Linked DNA regions of Homo sapiens. The protein of the gene in region 3 interacts with the protein of the main gene of each other region in a biochemical or structural test. Each region holds a gene or a part of one and is shown on either strand. Other genes may lie near its edges. The genes, in order: DUSP10, MBP, MAPK14 and RB1.

The links.
Region 1: the proteins of MAPK14 (region 3) and DUSP10 form a complex in vitro, tested with the Homo sapiens proteins (2 studies listed by BioGRID, with this or other methods).
Region 2: of the proteins of MAPK14 (region 3) and MBP, one has a biochemical effect on the other in vitro, tested with the Homo sapiens proteins (4 studies listed by BioGRID).
Region 4: of the proteins of MAPK14 (region 3) and RB1, one has a biochemical effect on the other in vitro, tested with the Homo sapiens proteins (3 studies listed by BioGRID and IntAct).

The regions. Positions count from the first base shown.
Region 1 is NC_000001.11:221,739,087-221,746,779, forward strand, and holds the start of DUSP10 (dual specificity protein phosphatase 10), read right to left. Parts: upstream 3,004-7,693; 5' UTR 2,895-3,003; intron 702-2,894; 5' UTR 659-701; coding exon 1-658. UniProt on the Homo sapiens protein: Protein phosphatase involved in the inactivation of MAP kinases. Has a specificity for the MAPK11/MAPK12/MAPK13/MAPK14 subfamily. It preferably dephosphorylates p38.
Region 2 is NC_000018.10:77,129,766-77,137,547, reverse strand, and holds the start of MBP (Golli-MBP), read left to right. Parts: upstream 1-4,764; 5' UTR 4,765-4,968; exon of another isoform or gene 4,969-7,782. UniProt on the Homo sapiens protein: The classic group of MBP isoforms (isoform 4-isoform 14) are with PLP the most abundant protein components of the myelin membrane in the CNS. They have a role in both its formation and stabilization.
Region 3 is NC_000006.12:36,107,808-36,111,767, reverse strand, and holds the end of MAPK14 (mitogen-activated protein kinase 14), read right to left. Parts: intron 3,389-3,960; coding exon 3,321-3,388; 3' UTR 532-3,320; downstream 1-531. UniProt on the Homo sapiens protein: Serine/threonine kinase which acts as an essential component of the MAP kinase signal transduction pathway.
Region 4 is NC_000013.11:48,474,744-48,481,774, forward strand, and holds part of RB1 (retinoblastoma-associated protein), read left to right. Parts: intron 1-1,706; exon of another isoform or gene 1,707-1,779; intron 1,780-1,957; coding exon 1,958-2,100; intron 2,101-2,611; coding exon 2,612-2,661; intron 2,662-5,235; coding exon of another isoform or gene 5,236-5,254; coding exon 5,255-5,328; 3' UTR 5,329-7,031. UniProt on the Homo sapiens protein: Tumor suppressor that is a key regulator of the G1/S transition of the cell cycle. The hypophosphorylated form binds transcription regulators of the E2F family, preventing transcription of E2F-responsive genes.

The DNA.
Region 1 (7,693 bases), on a different chromosome or scaffold from region 3:
CCCTACAGGAAATCAAGTCTAGGACAGTGATCTTGCCCTGCTGCAGTCTCCGCCGGCTGATCTTATCGGCACAGTTAATGTGGACAGCTCCTTGGATGTGACTCTTGTTGTACTCCATGAAGGGCCTGCAGTCAATGATGACAGGGCCCTGACTCGGCAGGTGACTCTTGCTGCATTTGGTCATCTTCTTTGCCAAGTCATTGGGGTAGATTATTTTGATGCTGGCTAGCTGCTTGGGGGTCCCTGACACAGGGCTGCCCACCCCACTTGATGGACTTAGAGAGCCTGTATTCTCATTATTGTTGACCATCTGGTTAGCAGGGCAGGTGGTAGAGGTTCCGATGGCAGTGGTGGTGGTGCCAGCGGCAATGGCTTGGGTTTGGGCCTGATTGTCCTTGTCGTAGGTTGCCACAGTGCAGCAGCTGGCACTGCTGCATCCACAATTCAGCGAGCGGGCAGAGCCGCTGGATGAGGGCATATACGTCAGATTCGCAGCCTTGAGGGACACAACGGTGGTGGCGATGACAGGAGGGTGGCTGTTACTGCCTGGGTTGGCAGAGCCAAGGTAACTAGAGTCTAAACAAAGGTTGAGATCCTGAGGTCGGACGGGCCTAGATAGTGCCACTACTACCCTGTCGTCTAAAGGAGACGGAGGCATGAGGAGGCTGAAAACTGGCAATTCAAGAAGAACTCAAGACAGTCTGTAAAGAAGGGGAAGGGGGAAAGAAAGAATAAAGTCACGTGACACAAAAGGCAGTCTCATCCAATCCCTGGGAAAGACCTTTGCATCCCTCTGAGCAAAGTCGTCCTAATTGCCCTTTATCATACCATTATCAAAACTTGAAATTCATTTTTATGTATTCAAAGAGGATGCAAACCTGAGGGCTCCAATCAATTTGGTTGCTAAGTCTAAGGTTAAATTTGGATGTAATGTTGTAAATGTTAATGAACAACCTTTCCTGGACCTACATAAAAGTTCAGCTGTAGAGAAGGTATAAGCACAAATAATTAGAAAAGCTGAAGACAGAAGGGAGGCTCTTAAGAGGCATCTATTCTGAACCTCAGCTCTCGGGCAGAAGTACACTGCAAACATCTGAGAAAGACCCATTTGTCCACCCTTGCATGCTTGCCATTTAATTCCCTCACTCGCTGCAAAGGCAAAGGGGTAACCAAGAGCACTGGCATGGTTCACAGAAAGGTACAGCAGCTAAATATACATCAGGGTGGATGTCAACTTTCTGCAAATCCCCTTAAGTGAATCTCTTTAACTTGGAGCTATTCTTGCCTTCCATTCTCTATTGGGGTCCTTTGAAAAGCACAACATAGTCATACTAAAACCTCACATGTTGTCTTTTGGCCTCTTATAAATTAATCTGCATTTCCCCTTTTCACTACTAACTGGTGTCCTAAAACGAAATCTCAAGCCATGGAGCCAGATCTGGAAACCTGGAAACCCCAGCCCCGGCAAATCCCTCACCCTTTGCTCTCTCACCTGCCCCCGCCCTCATTCCTGCCTGGAAAGGACAACTTGGGCTCTCCTCCCCTCTTCATCTCCCTGGCTGGCACAGACTGTGCATCCTAGAGCTTCTCTCAATGGGAGGCAGCCACGTTGTATAAGGTTTCAATCCCATACAGATATCCCCCCTTCAAGAGTACTGATTCCGTAAAGAGGACCTCCCAATTAGCCTGTACTCGTTGAAAGGGACAGTGAATTGTTGCCCACCGGATCTATCTCTGATTTCAGAGTGTCTGCAAAAAGACAGCTCCTTCCTCCTGTAGGCACAGGGGCACTCTACAACTCAGGCTTGCTAACTCTTCTTCTTCTATTAGACATGCACATAGCAAAGACGCCAAACCCCACGCCAAGAGACGCTCACCTAAACGAACTTTAAGAGCTATCAGGAAAAATGCCATCTATCATCCGTCTACACACGACCGTCACCATTCTCATCCGTCTACACACGACCGTCACCATTCTCTGACACAGAACCAAAGTGTCACAGGCGGAATCCACACTCACGCGCGCACACGGGGCACGCACCCATCACGTCGGCAGATCTCCAACGACTCGGGTTTCTCTCACCCACCTTTGGATGGGAGCGAAGGAGTCAACCCCCCTTCCCTTGCGTAGTATTTTTTCTGAAGAGCGAGTTCTATTCCAGAAGCTATAACTGTTTCCCGGTTGGACCAAGCGGTGAAAGTCTTTGCTATTGTGTTACCTGGTAGGACACGTCCAGGATCAACATACCATTTCTTCTGAGAGGGACGCATAAGCGTGTTCACAGAGACACGCGCTGGGACCCCCACCTCCACACAGAGTTCAAGGCTCACACACACACACACGGAGTGTATAGAGAGACCTGCATCCCTGCAGCAGAGGGTCGGGCGTACATACTGCCCGTGAAACCATCCAGTCTGGCCCAGAAAATCTCCCAGAGAAATACTGAGCTATCCCCTCTCCCTTCCACCACTAGGCAAGAGCTGGAGAGAAAATTAAGTGGTTAGAGAATGCTTCTTCCCCATTCCTGGAGCACTTAACATCCCCCCGCCCCCCGCTTCACTCCTCGGCACACAGCGCACTAATGAGCCCCGAGCATTTAAAACTGCCGCAAAGCATCCCAACAAACCTCATTTTTTCTTCGCCCCAAATCCAAGTAGACTGCAGGGAGTAAACGCACAGGGTAGCAGGAGCCAACGGCCGGAACCTTATAACCCTACCTGCTGTAGCTCCTCCGTCAGCATCGCATCTCTATCTTTCTGTCTCTGTCTCTCTCTCACACACACACAGATACACACACACAAACACACACACTCACACTCACACAAGCACCGCCTTACAATCCTCCACCTCCAGTCCCGGGCTCTCAGGAGTAGTCGCGGTGACTTCCACTTACTTCATAAATAAGTGTATTCCTCCACCATCTGGCGCTCCTCTTCAGCTATGGACTCGCACATTCAGCCCCCATTCACTCGGCTTCATTGATCTCCAGCAGCAACATAGTTACTTTCTCTTTTGCTACACTGTAAATGTAAGGTTCTGAGGGGGCGGACTCGCCGCCGACCGACGGCGGGTTGGGCCAATAAGAATCCGGAGAAAGCCGACCGCTACCTCACAGAGCCCCGCGACCAATGGGCAGCCTAGGGGGCGGGTAAGAAGGCGTGGCCTCATCTCTTTAAGGAGGGTTTATCCGAAGCTGCTCTGGGTCCTCGGTGTTAAAACACGGGCGGTGATGTCATTGGCAACCAATCAAAAACTTAAAAGAGCCAGCCGGGGCCGCGCGGAGCAGCTGCTCTCTATTTACATGTAAACCGAACCGGCAGGATGCAGTTAACCCTTTACCAGGCTGAAGTGTCAGCGGGCTGGACGCGCTGCTCCGCTAAAACTGGCTCTTCCCACTGGACGGGATCCTCCAACACTCCCTCACCCGGGGACAAACCACGCTATTTTTCCTCCTTACTATGGACAGATGATCAAAAGTATCGGAGTAACTTTCTAAAGGAAAGAGACTGCGATCACCGTCCCTAGTGGGAAAGCCGGGTTCTCTCCGAGTCGCTCGAGGTGACTTGACAAACGCTAAGCCAAAATTCGCGGACCTCGCCGGGTCTTCTGCGCTAGGACCAGCATGAGCGCGCAGCCAGGGGCGACGCTTCCGCTCCGAGCCGCGGCCCGGGGCCACGCGCTAAGGGCCCGAACTTGGCAGCTGACCGTCCCGGACAGGGAGGCCCTTCAGCCTCGACGCGGCCTGCGTCCTCCGGAGGGCCCTGCTCCGCCCGGGAAGCGTCCGCCTCCCGCCCGCCCGCCCGCAGATGTCGCTGCCCCTCTGGCTGTCCCGGCCTGACCGCCGCGCGCCGCCCTGCTGCTCACCTACTTCCGCGCCACGGTCACGCCCCTGCCGTCCCCAGGCTAACCCTCCCGGGGCTCGACCCAGAGCACTAAGGCGGCGCCACTGAGGGCTGCTCGGAGGAGGAGGCTTGAGTCGACGCCAGAGGCGGCAAGGGACGCGCCCTGAGCAGCGGTGCAGAGGCCAATCCCCTGGCCGGGCGTCCTGGGGCCCGCTACGCGCCCGCTGCCCCTCCGGGTCTGGGTCCCCGCCCGCCGCCGCCCCCCTTTCCCGCCTGGCGCGCTGGGTCCCCGCGCCGTGCCAGCAGCGCGCAACCCACCCGCCCCACATGCCTCGGCCGCCACCCCTCGGTCCCGCACGGCCCCTGCCGAGGCCAGGACCGGCAGCCCGGCGCTTCTGGAACAGCCGCAGCTGGCGGAAAAGAGCCAGAGCCGAGTGCAAATAGCTAGATTGAATGGGGCCGGAGGAGCGTGGAGGAGGTGACGCCGCCTCTCCCCGCTCCCCTGACTTTGGCCGGCGCCAGGTAGCTGGCCGCAGCTCCTGATCAGGGAGAAGAGTAGGGGGCGGGGCAAGCCGCCCCTTGCCTAGTCCGGAAAATATTCTCATTAGGGAAACTGCAGGAAAGTTGCCCTGGGATACAAAAAGAAGTGGAGATGAACAACCCCAGATGAACTGTGGAGAGTCTACGTCCAAGAACCCTAAAGAAGTAGAGCTTTTTCTTTTCTTATCTGTGAGAGAAGGGATAAAAAGTGAAATAATGGAATAATACATTATGAGCACTAGGGAATGTTGGGCTATCGTTTTTCTCCCTTACCTGATTGGATGGGGTTTGGAGGTCTACTTCAGACTCCAAGCCTAGTAGTATACTGAGTAGCAGGGGCATATTCATGTAATTGTTTTCAGGGCAGATCTGAAATCAGGAGGTGTCAGACCATAGCTAGCAAGTCAGCTATGCTCAATGAGCTGTGAAGAGAAATCCCCTTGGGCACCTCCACTTACATGCAGGCACATACCCCCCAGTCCAGCTTTTCACACCAGTGTTACGACGGGCATCACGTACACATCCGATAGTCTTACATAGGAGAGGATTTTGTGTAACGTCTGTTGTCGAAAATAGTCAAACTCTGTAAAATATTTGAAGAGATTTATTCTGAGCCAAATATGAGTGACCATGGCCTGTGACACAGCCCTCAGGAGGTCCTGAGCACGTGCCCAAGGTGGTTGGGGTCCAGCTTGGTTTTATACATTTTAGGGAGGCATGAGACATCAATCAAATACATTTAAGAAATACATTGGTTTGGTCCAAAAAGGCTGGACAACTCTAAGGAGCGGGTGGGCTTTCAGGCTATAGGTAAATTTAAACATTTTCTGGTTGACAATTGGTTGAGTTTGTCTAAAGACCTGAGATCAAAGAAAGGAACGTATGGGTTAAGATAAGAGCTTGTGGGGACCAAAGTTTTATTATGCAGATGAAGTCTCCAGGCAGCAGGTTCAGAGACAATAGGTTGTAAAATGTTTCTTATCAGACTTGAACTCCATGTTGATATATAACAGGGCTCATCCCACCCTCACTTCCCCTCATGGCCTGAACCAGTCTTTCAGGATAAATTTTACAGGAGCCTGGGTTGAGAAATTAGTCCGTTGGTTGATATATAATGAATGGGGCACGTCCCACCCTCACATCCCTTCATGGCCTGAACCAGTCTTTCAGGATAAATTTTACAAGAGCCCTGGTTGACAAATTAGTCCGTTCAGAGGGTTGCCTGGGAAGGCGGGGTGGGCAGGGGGTGGGGCGTGGGGGGTGCTTAGAATTTTATTTTTGGTTTACACCTCTCTCCATCCACACACCAACACACACGTCAATTCACCCTCCTGATAATAGCAGAGTGCTTAGGGCACACCATTTGGTTCTTAAATGTTTGAAGATCAACAGGTTATGGTCAGGAAACTTGGGTTCTGGGTAATTTCTATACAAATCAGAAAAGAACTTCCCAGAGGTTCTACCCTTGATCTATCTGGAGCTGGAAGGCTGAAAGCTTACCTTTCCCTAAACATAGACAATTATGGGAAAATTTTTCATTAACTCAGAGTTTGAGAGTTCTAAGTTCTGATTCTGACTCTATCTGTTATATCTGTTCATCCAGTCTCTGTCTTCATTTATCCATAGAATGGTAATACCCCAACTCAGAAGAAAAAGGGAACTCATTCAAGCGCTCAGGGGGGAAAAAAGATCCCCTGCTGATAAAAGGCATTCAGTGGAAAAAAAAATTAATTTACTTGCTTTAGGAAATAAGGTGCCTATCTTTAAAGGTATATATGATCTATAAATGATGAATTCATTTCTAATGCCTCAACATCTAAGCCCAAAGTATAGATTTATACAATTGCAGAAGAGTTCTTAACAGCTTTTCCCACAAGGCCCAAAATGGAAAAGTAATTTCAAGAAGAAATGTAACTCTTGTAATGAGATGATTGTTTTATTATAGTTTCAAAGTAGTAGATTATTATAATTTAGTTGACTAAGAATCTAAGCCATCCAGGCTGAAACATTGGGAAAGATGGCAAAATTCCTTATCATATATCAAGCCTGAAATGTGGAATAATTACCAGATTATGAATATAAGCAAAGTTGTAGTTATTTTTTAAGTTAGGCATCTCTAAGTTTATATTCAAGTCATAAGACTGGTGAAAAAAATCAGATTATAGATGGAATTTTTTTCCATTCACTACTCTTCAGAACATCTTTTGGACAAGAAGAAGTGATTTTATTCCTGTTTTTGAGCGATAAATGTGAAAATACTACACTGAAATATAATGCCCTGAGACTTAAATTCGTAATGCTAGTCAGCCAATGGCTACAAATCTGATCTGTATATCAATAACCAGCAGCAGAGCGTTAATGTTAGTTTCAGTCCCAAAGAAAGAGTGAAGCATCTTCATTCAGTCTGGATGTTGTAACATGATTGTATTGAGCATATCTTTGTTCCCACAAACATCATAAGAAAAATATTGACTGTTTCAGCTGAAGTACTATGTATTAAAGTCAAAAGATGACAATAACTTAGGCCAACATATAAGATATAATATGGATAGTATTTAGCAAATGTATTAATTAAATTACTTCTTTTTTGTGCACTTAAATGGTTAAGTGTGTGGGGTAATGGCAGAAGGTGGGGCCTTCAAAATAATCCTCAAGGTCAAGATAGATTTCTGGAGGTACTAGAATTAAGGCAGAGAATGGCTTGGAGAAAACTTAAAAATCATCCAGGATAAAGATGATATTATACCAGAAGGAGTGGGGAATAAGCTGAGGAATAGGAAAGTGGCATGGTAAGTGTTTGAGGTCATTGAGACCAGCCTGGCAAAACATCCAGCAACACTCTCCAGGCCTAGGGAAGGGCTGATAAGAAGTGTTCCCTGAAGGAAGGAGCTGCTATGGTTTGAATGTTCCCCCAAAATACATGTTGAAACTTAATCACCAGTGTGACACTATTAAGAGATGAGGCCTTTTGGAGGTGGTTAAGTCATGAGGGCAGAGGCCTCATGGAAGGGATTAGGGCCATTACAAAAGGGCTTCAGGGAGTGAGTTAGTTTTCTTCCATTCCCCTGTGGGGACACAGCAACAAGGTGCTATCTTGAAATCAGAGATTGGACCCTCACCAGGCAGTGAACCTGCAGATGGCACCTTGATCTTGGACTTCCCAGCCTCCAGAACTCATGTGAGCAATAAATTTCTGTTCCTTACAACTTCCCCAGTCTCAGGTATTTTGTTATAGCGGCACAACTGGACTAAGACAGTGGCTACTGTAATGATGGAAACAGAGGCAGGGCCATGTGCTTGTCCCACTATC
Region 2 (7,782 bases), on a different chromosome or scaffold from region 3:
GGCAGCAGGGGGTGGGTCTCTCCTGTGGGGTGGCCTGACACTGTCCCCCGGGGTTTGTGAACCTGGAGGGCGCTAGGAGCCTGCAGGTGGGGAGAGGAGGCCAGGTGTTGCCCTGGGCTGTCTGGGCACAGCTTCAGAGAGGAGGTTTGGGTGGTTGGAGCCATGGATGGGAACCAGCAGAGGCCCTGACTTCTGACCCCTGACCTCACTCCCCACAATGGCTCCCAAGGCCTTGCCCTGTGGTCCTCCTCAGTCTCCTCTGCTCACCTTCCTCCCACACCTCATGACTTTTGTGGCCAAGTTGCTTGATTTCCACTTTAACTAAAGGCTTTGTAGAGTGAACGCGCGGACGCCCGTTTTTCCCCCTGGAGGGATTGGCTCTCGTTGCCTGGCCCTGCTGTAACAGAAAGTCACCATCTGGGAGGCTTCACAACAGAAATGTAGCTTCTCAGTCTGGAGGCCAGGAGTATGAAATCCAGGTGTGGCCAGCGCTGTGCTCCTGCCAGGGGCTGCAGGGGAGGGTCCCTCCGTGCCTCTCCCAGCTTCTGCTGCCCCCAGCATCCCTCAGCTCCGGGATGTATGACTCTCACTTCTGCCTCTGTCTCCATGTGGCCTCTTCCCTCTGAGTGTCCCCTCTGCTTACAAGGACATGGCCACCGCACCGGACCCCCCCAAGGACCTCATCTCCACCTGATGACACTAGCAAAGGCTATTTCAAAGCACAGTCACTTTCCCAGGTATTAGGTGGTCAGGACTTCGAGTTCTCTCTTCGGGGACACAGTTCAACCCTTAACAGTGAACTTTCACTGTAGAAACACAGTTTTTCCACCTTTGAGGACAAACTCCAGAGAAAGGAAGCCTGGTACAGGAAGAACGTGGAGGCAGGAGGGGCACCGTGGAGGCAGGTCTGGGTCAGAAGTGGGAGGTCCCCAAAGCCAGGGCCAAGCCCTCCTGGTTCCCACTCACCCTGCCTCTGAGCCCCTCCCTCCAGGGCCCGTCTCCCTCCCTCAGAGCTGGCTGCTGACCCCACCCCTGCAACAGGGCCGCTGTCTCCTCACAGCCTTTCCTGGCTCCCTCTGGGGTCTGCCATGGCTCCCATGCACATTCACACTGTGCATGCTCTGGACTTCCCGGCAACCCTCCCGTCCTCTCGGGCTGCTTCCTGGGGCTGGTTATTAAGATGTCACATTTAATCCCCTTGTTATAGGAGCATCAAATGTAGCACAAAGTCCAGCACACACACAACCCCCACCCACCCCACAGACCTGGCTAAGGCTCTCCTATCCCTCACTCTATTCCTGCCCAGTCCAGCTCCTTCCCAGCTCCTGGGGAGGCTGGCACTCATTCCACCACCCCCCGCAGGGAACTCTGTTAACTAGATTGGAAGCTGAGTATTCATTCCTTTTTTTCCCTATGTCTTAATCTAACCCTCTATTAAGGACTGCACATCTATCCCCCCAAAATTCATATGTCAAAGCCGCAACCCCCAGGGAATGGTATTTGGACATGGGGTCTTTGAAAGATAGTTCGGCTTAGATTGAATCCGTGAGGGTGGCCTCACAATGGGATTAGTGTCTTTATAAGAAAAAGAGGCCACAGCCCAGTCTCCTCCCCTTCCTCTTTCTCTCCCTCCACCACCCGACACACATAGAGAAGGTGCTGTTTATGAATCAAGAAGCAAGCTCTCGCCCAACGCCAAGTCCGCCAGCACCTGCATCTTGGACTTCCAGGCTCCAGAGCTGGCATAACATCTGTTTTTAAGCCATCCAGTCTGTGGTATTTTGTTATAGCAGCTGAGCTGACTAATACACCCTCACGTGGGAAGTAAGCCCCACTGGCGAGGTTGTGAATATATATTGCAACAGAGCGAATAGATGTAACGTCTGAAGAGCCAGCCCAGAATTCCTCTGAAGTACCACTTGTTTGGAAACAACTGTGATCAACCCCTGGATGAATGAGGGAGACCTCCACACCTGGGTATCCACCGATGCCTGAGCTGCAGAAAGAGAGTGTTCAGCCCTGATATGAGGATGACTATTACCTCCACACTGCAGATGAAGAGACTGAGGCTCAGAGAGGTTTAGACCAGGTCTGAAAATCATATTCAGTCCTGGCCGGGCGTGGTGGCTCAGGCCTGTAATCCCAGGACTTTGGGAGACCCAGGCAGGTGGATCACCTGAGGTCAGCGGTTCGAGAACAGCCTGGCCAACGTGGTGAAACCCCATCTCTACTAAAAATACAAAAATTAGCTGGGCATGGTAGCGGTTGCCTATAATCCCAGCTACTCGGGAGGCTGAGGCAGGAGAATTGCCTGAACCTGGGAGGCGGAGGTTGCAGTGAGCTGAGATTGCACCATTGCACTCCAGCCTGGGCCACAGAGCAAGACTCCATCTAAAAAAAAAAAAGAAAGAAAAAAAAAAGTTCAGTCCTTTCCTAAGCAAAACATCATAACAAAGACAAATCTGTTGATGAGGAAACTAAAGAAAACTCAAAGTTCGTGCAGTCTGAGGTCTGTTGGAAACTATTTAGATTCATTTACTTCCTTTAGCTTGGGTAATTTGGAGTTTAATTCAGCTTAACAAAAATTTATTGAGTGTATTTCATGCACAAAACATTTTGCTATTTGCTGCCATATGAGATGATGGATAGGTCAAACTTTCTGCTCTCCGGTACCTTGTGAAAGATGGGGGTAACTGCAATGTGATTTTCTTAGAAATGTCAAAGACACAATGAGGCTTTGATGGGTTACTTGTCAAAAGATGCCTTTCAATTTTATTCAGCACAACGAATCTCTGTCACTTTGCTGAGGGCTACATGGACATCTTCATGTGAAAGTTTGTCTCTCGACAGTGAAATGCCAGCCTCTGTTTCTTCCATCCACTGTCCTCAACCTGGGGTCCTTTTTCTAACCGGGAGGGCATGAAAGCCCCCAAGATAAGACCAGTTGATCCAAATGTGAATCCACTGTTTTATTAAATAGTATTATCTACATGTTTTCTTTGAAGAATCCATGACTTTTCTAAACTGCCTGGCTGCCCATCTGTGTGGACACTCTATCCCAACAAAATATGCACGGTGAAATTTCATAAATACTTTAAAAAGACTTTTAACTGGAACTTGTGGAGCCTGACATTTGTAGGGCTGACTGTTGGCATATGTAGTGTTTCAGGAAACCACTGTAACACCAGCAGAAGGAGCACCAAACAGAAGGCCGCGTGTGCAGCTGTCACTGTGGCCTGAGGGACGCTCCAGAGCCCAGCACACAGGGACATCTGCAGGCAGGAAGGTGGCCCCGCCCTGTGGAGTCACTGAGATAAAGCCAAGAGATATTTTGGGGAGGAAAAGCTGTTTCTGATGCTAAAGCAGGTATCTAAAATGGGACCCATTTTAGTGTTCCAGCTTCCCCAGCCTGAGCTTTGAGTGACTTGAGCTGGGACCTGGGTGCACCCGGGTTCATTGTCACCACCCGTGCTCCTAGGGCAGCTGTCCAGCCTCCCACGCCCACTCCGCTCATCCTTGACTTAAAGTGAGGTTGTGGGGCAGAAAAATTGGAGAAACACACTATCTTTGGCACCCTTTTCCCTCCTCACCTTCAGCCTCAAAGTCTCAGAACCCTCCTGCCCCCTCCACTTGAAAATCTCTCCTGAGGAAACGACCAGACTGAATGCTTTTGCGTCGTTGTGGAAGTATTTCTCTTCCAGTTGCCAGCATTTGAAGACAGTTGCTAAATCCTCCGGGGCTTTGGGGGAGGCTGGTTTTAGGCCGAAACCCCGACCCCGTGCTGAAGTCTGAGTCCCGCCTCCCAGCGCGGGCCGGGACAGCGCTCACCCCTCTCCCTCACTTCCTAACAAACTGTGTGGGTCCCAGGCTGCTCCAGGTCCCCTGGAAGCTCCAGATCCAGATCCCTGACTGGGGGTGTAGGTCAGGAGGAACGCGGGGCCTCATTCTGGGACTCCCCCAACCTCCTCCTCTTCCACCATCAGGAGGCTGAGAATCCAGAGAAAGATCTCTGACCACTAAATCTGTGTGCAGGTGAGTCACGGCTAAACAGCAGGCTTTTTCTTTTTAACAAGACAGCGACGAAGACCACGATGTCTCTGGGCTGCAGGACCAGGCTGCTTCCTCGCACCTGCGCGTGTTTTGCTGTCTTTTCCGCGCACGCTTCCTGCGCCGGTCCTGCAGGAGAAGGTGCGCCCCTAGCTCCCAGCTCCCAGCTCCCAGCTCCCAGAGGAGCACCTGCCAGCCGGACATGGGCCTGGCCTGGGCTCCAGGGGAGGGAGGGAGTGCCTTGGGAGGACCTGCCGGCTCCTTTCGCCTCCAGGCCGGGCTGACTCTCCTCCTGCAGGGCCGGGGCTGCGCCAAGTCTATCGGCAGTTTCTGGGGTTTCCAGCCCCTGAGGACGCGGGGAGATGCGGCCTGGCACCCCTCCCGCGAGGTCGAGGTCGGGGTCGGGGTGGGTTCGGAGGCCAAGCCTCCGAACGGGAAGGGTCGACGGGCCGCAGTTCGGAGCCCAGTTCGGCAGCGGGCGAGGCTCCAGGCCGCCCCTCCGAGGTCTGACCCTGCGCGTGGGCCCCGTGCGCCCCCCAAGTTCCGCGTGGGCAGAGCGGGCCCGGGGTCCTCCGAGCTCCCGGGGCGGCGCCGGCGGCCGCGTCCAGGTGGGGCGGGCCCGGCGGGATCGGCCTGTGTTTACCTGGCTCGCAGGAAGCCCGGGGAGGCGGGGCCGGGGAGCTGGGTGCGCGCCCGTCCCTCGGAGCCGCCGCCGTCAGTCACCGCCGCCGCGCGCCAGAGAGAAGCAGCCTCCGGCCCCGGCGGCCCCTGTCTCCCGACCCCGGAAGGCGAAGCAGGCTGCCCGGGGACCCCGCGCGTGGGCGCTTGAAGCCGAGACCAGCCTGCCCGGGCCTGGGCAGGCGGAGCAGGGCCTTGGACCCCGCGGCGCCCCTCGGCCTCGGAGCAACGAGCGCAGCGCCGGTGGGTGACCCTCGGGGACGGGCGGGCTGCTCTGCCGCCTTTGTCTCTGTGCCCCTCCGAGTGGGGACCGCGGAGACCTGGGCGGGACCCCGGACCGGAGCCCCGCGGGAGCCGGGGGCGCAAGATCGGGGACAGGAGCTATCCCGACGCCCGGACTCCGGGTCCCTTTCTTGGCTGGGGACGCGCAGGGAGAACCTAGGCAGCGGAGCAGGTGGCCGAGCAGGTAGCAGCCGGCGGCCTCCCTGACCCGAACCCAAGTCGCCGCCCCCGATCCCCATTGCGCGGGGGCTGGGCGCGGGTGTAGACGCGGGTTTACAGCGCCGGGGCCCGACCCTGACAGGTGTCCAGGGGTGGACTCCAGCCAGGCCCGGCGGTCCCAGGGTCGCTGAAACCGCTCGGCCTCGGGCCGTGGGGCTGAGGGGAGGAGTCTAGGGTGGGAGGGGACGGCGGTCAAAAGCGGCCACTCTGGGCGGGTGTGGAGAGGGTGCTGGCTGCCAGGGCGGGCTGGGGGGTCCTCCCGGCTCGCGGCGCCTGCTAATCACACCCCGGGGGCCCCGCGCGCGATCGCGCTCCTGCCCCTGCCCCCGGGGCGAAGCGCAGTCTCCCTCTGAGCTCCAGGGGCGGCCAGGAGAGCCCGGGTCCGGGCTTCCGCCTTCGCAGGGCCTGTCTCGGGCTCTTCGGCCGGGCCCGTCGCTGCGCCCACCTGGGCCCACGTGCGCCGCCCGCAGCCGCCCGCCGGCCCGCCCGGGTCTTCCCGGCAGTCCCCTCCTGGGCCCCACTGCCTGTCCTGGGCCGGGTGCGTCCGTTTTCCGTGGCCCCCGAGGCCGGGGTGTGTGACCTGCGGTCATTTGCCGCCACACTAGATTTTCCGGGGTGCTGGGGGCAGCGCCTTGTGTCCTTTCGCGTCCACCTGAGCCCCCCCGTTTTGGAAGGTGGAGTGGGGCTTGGGAAAAGGTTCAAGCGTCTTTGGGGACCCCCGTGCGACTCTGGCTGGAAACAGGCGAGCTCTGGTTCCTTGTTCCGTTTTCCAATTGCAACAACGTGAGAATCAACAAGTGCTCGGTTTCTCTGCGCGTGGGTGAGGGGCGCGTGGGCTCGCTGGGTGCTGGGGTGGGGAGGGGGCGTGGACTTCGTTCCGGGGAGGCCTCTGCCTCGTCTGACCACAGAACGCCCCGCCTGGAAAGAGAGTTTTTCAGAGGAAGGAAACGTCAGGGAACTCCAGTGTGTGTTTTGGACATTTTATCTGGCGAAGCTCCGGGGGACAGTTTAAGGACGGTCACCCTCAAGTCAGGGGACCGTATGGATTGAGCAGGTCCCGCACTGAGCTCCCTGGCGGCCACCTCCAGTGATGAGCACCTCCTTAGCGGTTGGGGCCGGGGCTGTGGTCACGGCTGAGAGCCTGGAACCCAGCCGCCCTTCAGTGGAGGAAGGCCAGGGGAAGGGTACCGCGGCAGAGGGGGTGTGTGTGTGTGTGTGTGTGTGTGTGTGTGTGTGCGCGTGCGTGCGCGCGTGTGTGTGTTTTGTTTTTTGAGGTTTTGTTTTTTTTTTTTTTTTGTGGGAAAAACAGAAATCTGAGGGAAAAGAACACAGTTAAAAATTGCTGTAAATGCTGGAGTAACTCCCAGGGAGTTAACTGTTCTGAAACAACCACTTCTACTAACTCCGGGTTAAACAAAGCTATTTTGTTCAAATCCTCTTTGAAAATCCTCCAGAAGTATCACAGTTCTGCCCAAAGATAAGAAAGTGTAAGACACGTCGCTTGTTTTACACCTGGTAGCTCATGGCTCCTCCATGATTTAAAACGTCGGGTTTGAGTTTGGTCAGTGGTGGTCCTAGCTGTGTGCGCTGATTAAAGGTAGCCACGAAACGCTGGGGAAAAAAGAAAAAAAAAAAACAAGAGACCAAACTTTCTTGTGATGTTTCTATTTCTGCCTGAATTTGTAAATGTTAATTGTAAGTTATTTTGTTTGACTTTTAATCCTCCTCCAAGTTCTTTAAAAATATGACATGCTTAAGATGAGCAGCTGCCTCTGTGCCTTTTCTGTCGCCTGGGAGTGTTTATCGACTGCTTGCACGTTGCCAGACTCTCTTTTGAGAGCGGTTTGTCACCTCGGATAACAGTCGGGACGGCCCTAGGATGCCCTCACTGGATGTCACCATCCTATTCATATCTTCATTTTTTACTGTTGAGGAAACAAGGCCCAGAGAGGTTAAGTTACTCTAAGGGCACACAAGAAGAGGCGGGATTCCATCCGGGGAGTCTGCACCAGCGCCTGACTGCTGCTCTGCACCGCCGTGGTGAGAAGGATGCCTTGCAAAGGTGCTCCTCGTTCCTCCTTTTAAAATTCCACCCCAATGATGAGTGAGTGTACCCAGAGATGTCCCACACAGGTTTCCTTTCAAGAATGATTTCACCATAAGGCTACTGTCATCCGTCTTTGTTCATCATCTTCTCCTTAGCTTTCTTAGTTGTCAATAAAAAAGAAAAGAAAATATTCTAATTACTCCTTTTCTTTTTCTTTTTTTTTTTTTTGACAGAGTCTTGCTCTGTCACCCAGGCTGGAGTGCAGTGGTGCAATCTCGGCTCACTGCAACCTCCACCTTCTGGATCCAAAACAGTCTCCTGCCTCAGCCTCCCCAGTAGCTGGGACTATAGGGGCGCACCACCACACCTGGCTGATTTTTGCGTTTTTTTGTTTGTTTTTGTTTTTTAGTAAAGATGGGGCCTCACCATGTTGGCCAGGCTGGTCTCAAACTCCTGACCTCAAGTGATCCACCCACCTCGGCCTCCCAAAGTGCTGGGATTACAGGCAT
Region 3 (3,960 bases):
AAAAACCCAGCTCTCAATATCCTCACAGGCTGAGCCCCACAATCCACCCTGGGACACCTGCTGGGTGTCATTCCAAGGACACCAAGAAAGGAAGCACATCAGCAAAGTCCCTGAGAACTCAGCTGTGAGACCCCGTGGCTCTTTCATCCCGTGATGCAATTCAGTCATTCTGAAGAATATTTTCAAGGACCGTAGCCAGCTAAGACAAAACAGAGTCATAAAATACATTCGCCTAAAAGCTTACAAACAATGTACACCTATATATACAAACCAAACCTTCTCTCTGGCAGTTTTATAATAAAAATATATGGCTTATAGATAGTCTCAAATGTCAAAGATGAAAAAAACCTGAACTTCACTTTATAGATGAGAAAACTGTAGCCCTGGGCCAAGGGTCAGCAGACTTCTCTAAAGGGCCAGATGGTAAATGGTTGACATTTTGGAGGTCCTATAGTCTCTGCTGCAACTATTTGCCTCTGTCACTGTAGCACAAAAGCAGCCACAGACAATACATAAACAGATGAGTGCGGCTCTGTTCTCATAAAACTTTATTTATGGATACTGGAATTTAAGTTTTACATTACTTACATCACATGCTACAAAATCTACTACTTCTTTTTTTTTCTTTCCCAACCATTTAAAAATGTAAAAGCCATTCTTAGCAGGCTACACCAAACAGGTGGTGGGCCAGATTTGGCCCTCAGGCCACAGTCTGCTGAGCCCTGTCATTTCGGCCACTCTTACACTCGAGTGTAGATAAGACAGGCCCCAATGCTTAATACTTCGTTCATTTGCTCTTTGCTTTACCCATCCACAGCAAAGACCTGGATACTCTTCACCAAAAAATGTACAACTAAGAAGCTTTATCAACATTTTCTAAATGTTAGGAGTAGTATTAAGATCTGTCAGACAAGTATGCCAGGTCACAGTTTAAAGGATATTGATATAATGCCATATTGTGCATTAAATAAAAACAAGAGAAAAATATAATAAACTTGAGAAACTCACTAAATTTGAAAAATAGGCTTTATTTTAACCAGTGGTATTGTCTGACATCCTATACGGCATAACTGATTACAGCCAAGTTCATGAATACAAATAAAATAGCAATTTCCCTCATTCTCTCTTTTGTTTTCTGTTCAGAGAAATCAGGAGATGGGAGCATTATGCTCAGAAACCGAAGAGCTCTTCCAAGAGCTCCAGCTTAGAGTCCAGGCTTCCAGAGCATGCAGCCTCCTAACACGTATGTGGTCACATGTGCAAAGACCTTTATTACAAAATATTCAGAGCAGTATTTCTGTAGGAAATCACACGAGCATTTACAACCAAACATGGCTGATAAAATTCATCTTGCTGTGGATGGTGAGGATTTGAACTGCAATAAAGGAGATGAGGCCTTTACTTTAAAGGTTCACTTTCCTTGAAAGGGGGAGAGTCCCGGGTGAGAGGGAATCGCCATCAGTCTGCCTCCTTCCTTCTTGCTCCAGTTGACTCAGGGGGTCCACCCTGTCCCTCTGGAGTACATGTATCACTGCACTGATTGAGAAATGGAAACACCTTGGCCCAAATACAAGATTCTGTCACACAGCCAACACTGGAAGTGACTTTATACTTTCTTATTACACAAAAGGCTTAAATATATGAGTCCTCATGTAGAACAAAATGCCTGAAATTCAGCAAGTTATGAAAACGACACTTCTCCACCCCTGAGGATATTTTATCTTTATAAAGTTGAAAATACAAAATATTAAAATAATTTGCCCTTTCTCCCCATCAAAAGGAATCACATTCTCAAAGGATTCCTACAATATACAAAATTCTGAAACAAAATTTATTTCTCCCCAAACCAAGAAGTCAATGTTAAGCTGCCAAGAAGACCCTTTTCCATAGGAGTGGAAAAGACACCTTGTTACTTTTTTATTTTAAAGTAATCATATTTAGAGAAAGACAGCAAAAGGAGTTTCTGGCCTTATGGGCTTTAATTTTTTACTTTGATTTTCAGCATTTCTTAGCATTAGTTATTGGGAGTGAAGAGAATAACTTGTTTCCGAAGTTTGGGATATTCCTGGGAAAAGCCCTGGTCTTTTCCCATGATAATTCCTCAAAAATAGTTGGTTGAAAACAGATGGCATGAATAAAAATGCTATACATCCACCTGTTCCTCTTTTCATGATTTTCACATCAAAAGCACCTGAAGTATCAATTGTGTTCAACACAGAATAGCACTAGGGGCTGAAGAGAGGTGATATCACTTGCCATAATATCAGCTGAGGTGACATGGGATCTAAACTACCCAAGAAGTCTTCACTGGCAAACCTGCCTGACACCAGGGCCTCCTGAAGAGAGCAGGACAAGCAGCTGTGCATGCTCAAATAGCAAGACGTGCAAAACACATCCTCACTCTGCTAGAAATAAAGAGTACACAGGAAGTACATGACATCAAGAACCTGCTTCTGACTACTGGGGCAGATATTCAAGAAACCTCTGCACCAAAGGTGAAGGGTAAGCAGAGAAATGGCAACACCTGGGGGTGAGGGAGAAAGAGAGACGCACATATACGCATGTGCTCACATGCACACATGACCGCCTATGAAGGCTGCCTGATTACTCCGGGCCCACAAGCAGCTGTCCAACAGCCCTCTCGACTTGCCCGGCTCAGAACTTCAGCAGCTGCAGTCTTTTAACTATCTACACTTTCTTCTCTCCTTTTAAGGCACAAACATATTTACAGTTTCAAATATACTGTCAAGATCTGAGAACCATACTAAGCAAGTTAATCACAGGCTAGTGCACAGAAGCCAGTTGGTCCTTTTTGGCTGTACGTATCACTGAGGGACGGTGTCAGGTCTGAAGCAACCAGAAGGTATGGGCCTTCTCTCCGTGCCACTGTGGGATGTTGTCAAGTCTACGCCCCACCGTCAAGGTGGGGTCACAGGAGAAGCCAAAGTGGCAAAAGCATGACCGGGATTGGGGACAATTCATATTTTTTTACTTTGCATTGAACATATTCCTAAAAGGACAGCAGCTCTTGTCTGCCTGAGCCAACTCTCAGAAAGAAGAGCAAGGTGGAGGCTGCCCTGGAGCATCCACAACCTCCTGTAAAGTCACTGTGATCATAGTTTGTTCATATTGTCTTACCCTCCCACAAAGACAGACACACACATGCACACACACTAACACGCACGCACACGCACGCACACCCCCTTCCACCATGGAGGAAATCTCTGCAACAAGAGGCACTTGAATAATATTTGGAGAGTTCCCGTGAAAAGGCCTTCCCCTCACAGTGAAGTGGGATCAACAGAACAGAAACCAGGTGCTCAGGACTCCATCTCTTCTTGGTCAAGGGGTGGTGGCACAAAGCTGATGACTTCATCATAGGTCAGGCCTAGAAATTGGGAAGGAAAAGTAAGATGTGAGAGTTTAGGCTATTCTCTTTGCTGGCAAGCACTCTGACTTCTAAGCTCAAGATCCTTCCTCTCTGTCCAGGTAGTGGTTTGATGGGCTACCTCACAGCTTGTATGTAATAGCCTACTGGAACACGTTATCACACAGAAGTTCAAGGGACATAGAAAAGAACCATTTTTTTTCTCATGTTTTTCATCGCTGAGTGCCTCTTCTTTTAAGCTCTCTACGGAGGTGCTCAAGAATGAAAGAGCACTCTCACAAGCTACAGCAACAGATGGTCTTGGCTCTTGGGATTTAACTAGAGTTCTGAACTTGTGTTTTGTGGAAAGAATATGGGACTGGACACAGGATACATGGGTTCCATTCCTGGCTATGTCCCTAACTAGTTCTAAGTTAACTGATAAGACATAAATTCTCTTTGCCCCAGTTCTACTAATTGTAAAACTGTAAAAGCTCAGAGAGATGTTGTAAATGCAATGACTCTGAAAACCTCAACTCTCCATGCAAAACTCCTATGTGAGGGGCTGTGCATAAAATCAGACCAGACATAAG
Region 4 (7,031 bases), on a different chromosome or scaffold from region 3:
GGAAAGCTTTGCTTTGAAACATTTATTCTAGGCTGCAAATCCACAACCCTAGTTGGCCTTCCATTAAAGTCACTAATTCAGCAGTCCCATATTCAATATGCATTACTGTTAATATGTTGCACCATCTCCATTCCCCTGAGAGCTTATATTTTTAATTTTTAAATTTTTATTTTTAGAGACAGTGTCTCACTCTGTCACCTACTTATTATAACCTCAAACTCCTCGGCCCAAGCAGTCCTCTCACCTTAGCCTCCCAAGTTGCCAGGACTACAGGCATGCACCACCATGTCCAGCTAATTTTTAAATTTTTTGTAGAGACAGGGTTTTCTATGTTGGCCAGATTGGTATTGAACTCCTGGCTTCCACGATACCCCGTCTCAGCCTCCCAAAGAACTGGGATTACAGATGTGAGCCACTGCACCTGGCCAGAGAGCTTATATTCTTATAGGAATGGGAAGACTGCCTATGTTATGTGTTGCTACATAATACATTACCCCCAAACTTAGTGACTTAAAACAAACGCTTATTATCTCCATTTCTGTGGGTCAATAATCTAGGCATGACTTAGCTGGGCCAGAGTTTCTCCAAAGTCTGTGATCAAGGTGTCAGTTGGGCTGGGCCTGCAGTCATCTCAAGGCTCCACTAGAGGAGCATTCACTGGCAGACTTATTCAAATGGCTGTTGGCTGATCCTCGATGGCTATTGGCCCCTCTATTGGTTTCTTGCCCTTGGGCCCCTCCATAGTACTGCTTGCTATTCACAACATGGCAGCTTGCTTTGCCCAGAGCAGGGACTCTGAGGGAGGCAGGGAAATAAAGAGCAAGAGAGAGGTCACAGTCTTATTGTAATCTAATTCTGGAAATGACAGCCCATTACTTTTGGCATATTATTTTGGTTAGAAGCAAGACAACAGTAGATCTAGCCCACACACGAGGGGAGGAGGATCACACAAGGAGGTGAATACCAGGAGGTGGGGTCATTGGGAGCCATCTGAGAGGCTGCCCACCACACTGCCTCAAGTAACTAGGGAGAGGTAAAAGTTTATATGCCAGATGACCAAATATTAAAATGTGTGTTACAAATAGTTCACGATGGGCTCAGCTGTCAGACTTTACAAAGGAGCTATGGGACCTTATAAGGACAGTTGGAACTGGCTAGGTATCACATAGTGGTCTTCAAACATTTTTGCTTGCCATAACCTCTAAAATAATTGGGAAAAAGTTGAATGTACTTCCATATCTTAAAGCTGATAATTTAAAATATTATACATTTAATAGCAGCACGGGATTTAGTTTTTGTTAAATTGTATATGTGCTCCAAATAGATTTACCATCAAAACCTGTTTTGAATTTAATATTGGGAGAATTCGCTAGTTTAATTTTTGGAAAATAAAGTATAATTGGCAAAGCTAATCCTCACTGTTGAATCTATCCGTCAAATCAGATATAATTTCTATCAGAAAGTCTATATGACTTGTCAACATAATACCCATAAAGTGAATCAAAAATTATTATTCATTGAACACATCATCTCTTATCAAATTCTTGTGACCTTCCTTCTGGTTGTATAATAGCCTAAAAAACAAAAAAAGGACAAAAGCAAGTTTCCAGAAAGCTGTTCTGACTTGCCTACTTCTGAAAAGTAGTCCTGTATGGTGGGTTCTGAAAATGAGGAACCAGGACTTGCAGAGTAGGCAGTTGCTGGAGGAAGAATGTGAGCTGCATGGGAAAAGACAGGAGGATTTACAAAGAGTGGGTGTTTAATTGGGGATGGAATTAGGTAGTTATTCTGATTTTTAGATTTTTCATATCTTTTATTTGGTCCAATGAAGCAGAAAATTTAAATGAAGTTATTACCTTTGCCTGATTTTTGACACACCTCAAACTATAACTTGAGGTTGCTAACTATGAAACACTGGCATTTAATGATTTAAAGTAAAGAATTCTGTAATTTGTAGACTTCTGAGAAGTTCCAGAAAATAAATCAGATGGTATGTAACAGCGACCGTGTGCTCAAAAGAAGTGCTGAAGGAAGCAACCCTCCTAAACCACTGAAAAAACTACGCTTTGATATTGAAGGATCAGATGAAGCAGATGGAAGGTAGGAACCAGTTTTGAATGTTTTCCAGTAGCCGAGATGGTCATCTGGGGAATCCAGAGTCTCAGCACTGCTCCTGGCTTATACCAATTTCTTTCATGCCAAGTTTATTTGGAAGTTGTGAGAATGGCTCAAAATAATAGATATGAGTGTAGTGCAAAGTTAAAAACATCTTACAAATTGCATACCAACATTCAGTGAAGATATCTAATAAACCCTGATCTTTTTTACAAAGCTATTGATAAAATTTTGTTATTCTTAACATTAAATTTAAAAATGTTTACTCTTGAAAAATATTAACCACTGTATTTTGTGAGAACCACTGAAAAAATACATAGCATCATAAATTTGTGACATTTATGTTTTAGATGGTTAGTTTTTAAATTTTAAAATTAAAAGCTACTCACTAAAATAATAGCATAAAGTAAGTCATCGAAAGCATCATAGTTACTGGAAATTTGAGTTTTCCATTTATAAATACACATGAAATGTTTTGCATTTTTTTAATCTGCAGTAAACATCTCCCAGGAGAGTCCAAATTTCAGCAGAAACTGGCAGAAATGAGTAAGTACTTTTTTCACCTTGTGTAAATGAAATAAACAATTGTTTACACTGCAAGAAGTCTTTTCGTTATATAAAAGAATGTATAATTTCTTCAGTTGGCAGGTTTGTTTATGCATTTAAAATATAATTCAATCAAGGTTATTTATCTACAAACATTTGTGGATTAAATGTATGATGTAAAATGAAGGTCATTTTTACCCTTTCTATGATCTTTCATGCAGGAAGACTAAGAAGTGAAACATTGCTTGACCACATTCAACACAAATGGCTACAGTTAGAAAATACTTTAGCAGAACTACAAAGAGGAGCTATTTGGGAGTGTTAGATATAGGGAAAAGTTTTATAAACCTAGCATATGTAAACATCATCACCCTTATTTAAGGAATAACCTTTGATTCTACCATTTTTAAACTTTCCTTATTTGCAAATCTTAAAACAATTTCAAACAAAAGTTTCCATTACTGGAAATCAGAATTTTAATAAAGAACACTTATGTCATTTTCCAAGTTATACAGAGTGATATCATGTTAGGGTAAGTGGAATTCTATTCAAAACTACTCTGAGACTAGACAAAAAAAATAATCCAAGGATAGTAGATGGAAAGCACATTAGGAAAGAGATAAATGTTCACTAACTACTATTGGGTTGTCTTAGGTAGTTATGGTAGTGAGTGTAACATTTCCCAGTATCTGCTGCCAGATCCATTGATAGGAAAAGGAACTGGGATTTTGAAAGAAGACAAATATTCAGGAGATAGGTGTTAAAACAATCATTCCTAGGTCACAGGACACACTAATGAGAACAATACCAATTAAAATGAGAGGCTTTCTTTTAATACATCTTTGTAGATACTAACTTTGAAAATAAGATATTTAAAAGGATGCTTTTTTTCTATGTATTTTTTTAAAGTGTAATTAAAACTAAATAACTAAAACAAAATTTTCTAGTTATAAATGAATCTCTTTTTGGATTTTATGTCAACTTACATATTCCTATTTTAACTCTTAAATAGTTGCATCTTTTCCCCTCAGTACATGAAAATAGACAAGAGGCTCATAACCAAAATCAGGCCTTGAAGACATATGGAAACATTTTGGAACCCACAAATATGCACTTAAAAAGGAGCTGAAAGCTGTAAAAACATGTATATTTTCTTAGAGAAGTGTTCAGTTGCTATAGTTAGTACATTTCCCAGTGACACACTTAGCTATGATGGCGAGCTTCCTCTGCCAGGCCAAAGTTCAGGACCTTTGTGCATCTACAAAATTGTGACAAAGCAGGCAGAATTTTAACCCCTGAGGCTAAGGCATTTCTTTAGGATGCTCTTCAGCTTTTCTTAAAGAATTACATTTAGAAAAGATCATCATACAATGCTGGATTGCCCAGAATGGAAGGGCATTCCATTTTTCCAAATGTGCTTCTTTATAAAGAACTCATGCCTACCTCTAAAATCAAGTTAAGAATTTTTAAGAAATTTAATAAGTATCCCGGCTTTGTCTATATTGTAATTCATAATATGCTTTTAACATGGCCATGCCCCGGGTAGGCATGATGGCTTATGTCTGTAATACCAGCACTATGGGAGGGCAAGGTGAGAGGATTGCTTGAGGCCAGGAGTTCAAGACCAGCCTGGGCAACATAGCAAGACCCCATCTTTACAAAAAAATCCAAAAATTAGCCAGGCCTGGTGGCATGTGCCTGTAGTCTTGGCTACTGGAGAGGCTGAGGTGAGAGAATTGCTTGAGCCCAGAAGGTCAAAGCTGTAGTGAGCCATGATCATGCCACTGCACTCCAGCTTGGGCAACAGAGCAAGACCTTGTCTCAAAAAAAAAAAATCCATGCCCAGTTTAAATGAGCTATGATTTGATGTATTTGCAGTACCTGCAAGGCATCTGCAAACATAAGGGAACCTATAGCTTTGTAAAGAATACCACCACTCACTCTGGCAGATTCAGTCTGGGCCAGCCGAGTATTCTAGTCTGCTGAAGTATATGCCAAGCATCAACCACCTCATCTCTAGAATAGTGGCCTACAAAATGGGGCATACCTGAAGTATGCAAAGTCATCTTTTGGGGTACATAAAGTAGAAGTTCTATTTATCTCATTTTAATGTTTGCTTGGGGTATGTGTTTTATAATTTGTACATACATACGTATTTTTGTGGTACAGGCTTGGAAAAAAATTTACTCACAGGGATATATGATTTTTAAAGATTTGGAGACCACTGTTTTTTTGGGGGGTGGGGAGGGAATTTTTTTTTTAATTGATATATCATAGTTATACATATTTTAGGGGTACATGTGATGTTTTGATACGTGTACACAATGTGTAATGATCAAATCAGGGTTATTGGGATATATATCACCTCAAACATTTTTCTTTGCATTGGGAACATTACAATTCTAGCTATTTTGAAATATGCAGTAAATTAACTGTAACTCCCTACGGTACTGTCAAATACTAGAATGAAGACCACTGCTTTTGCAAGGTCCTGAGCGCCATCAGTTTGACATGAGCATAATATATATGGCAGCCACTTGCCAACTTACCCAGTACCATCAATGCTGTTAACAGTTCTTCATCCTTTTTCCAGCTTCTACTCGAACACGAATGCAAAAGCAGAAAATGAATGATAGCATGGATACCTCAAACAAGGAAGAGAAATGAGGATCTCAGGACCTTGGTGGACACTGTGTACACCTCTGGATTCATTGTCTCTCACAGATGTGACTGTATAACTTTCCCAGGTTCTGTTTATGGCCACATTTAATATCTTCAGCTCTTTTTGTGGATATAAAATGTGCAGATGCAATTGTTTGGGTGATTCCTAAGCCACTTGAAATGTTAGTCATTGTTATTTATACAAGATTGAAAATCTTGTGTAAATCCTGCCATTTAAAAAGTTGTAGCAGATTGTTTCCTCTTCCAAAGTAAAATTGCTGTGCTTTATGGATAGTAAGAATGGCCCTAGAGTGGGAGTCCTGATAACCCAGGCCTGTCTGACTACTTTGCCTTCTTTTGTAGCATATAGGTGATGTTTGCTCTTGTTTTTATTAATTTATATGTATATTTTTTTAATTTAACATGAACACCCTTAGAAAATGTGTCCTATCTATCTTCCAAATGCAATTTGATTGACTGCCCATTCACCAAAATTATCCTGAACTCTTCTGCAAAAATGGATATTATTAGAAATTAGAAAAAAATTACTAATTTTACACATTAGATTTTATTTTACTATTGGAATCTGATATACTGTGTGCTTGTTTTATAAAATTTTGCTTTTAATTAAATAAAAGCTGGAAGCAAAGTATAACCATATGATACTATCATACTACTGAAACAGATTTCATACCTCAGAATGTAAAAGAACTTACTGATTATTTTCTTCATCCAACTTATGTTTTTAAATGAGGATTATTGATAGTACTCTTGGTTTTTATACCATTCAGATCACTGAATTTATAAAGTACCCATCTAGTACTTGAAAAAGTAAAGTGTTCTGCCAGATCTTAGGTATAGAGGACCCTAACACAGTATATCCCAAGTGCACTTTCTAATGTTTCTGGGTCCTGAAGAATTAAGATACAAATTAATTTTACTCCATAAACAGACTGTTAATTATAGGAGCCTTAATTTTTTTTTCATAGAGATTTGTCTAATTGCATCTCAAAATTATTCTGCCCTCCTTAATTTGGGAAGGTTTGTGTTTTCTCTGGAATGGTACATGTCTTCCATGTATCTTTTGAACTGGCAATTGTCTATTTATCTTTTATTTTTTTAAGTCAGTATGGTCTAACACTGGCATGTTCAAAGCCACATTATTTCTAGTCCAAAATTACAAGTAATCAAGGGTCATTATGGGTTAGGCATTAATGTTTCTATCTGATTTTGTGCAAAAGCTTCAAATTAAAACAGCTGCATTAGAAAAAGAGGCGCTTCTCCCCTCCCCTACACCTAAAGGTGTATTTAAACTATCTTGTGTGATTAACTTATTTAGAGATGCTGTAACTTAAAATAGGGGATATTTAAGGTAGCTTCAGCTAGCTTTTAGGAAAATCACTTTGTCTAACTCAGAATTATTTTTAAAAAGAAATCTGGTCTTGTTAGAAAACAAAATTTTATTTTGTGCTCATTTAAGTTTCAAACTTACTATTTTGACAGTTATTTTGATAACAATGACACTAGAAAACTTGACTCCATTTCATCATTGTTTCTGCATGAATATCATACAAATCAGTTAGTTTTTAGGTCAAGGGCTTACTATTTCTGGGTCTTTTGCTACTAAGTTCACATTAGAATTAGTGCCAGAATTTTAGGAACTTCAGAGATCGTGTATTGAGATTTCTTAAATAATGCTTCAGATATTA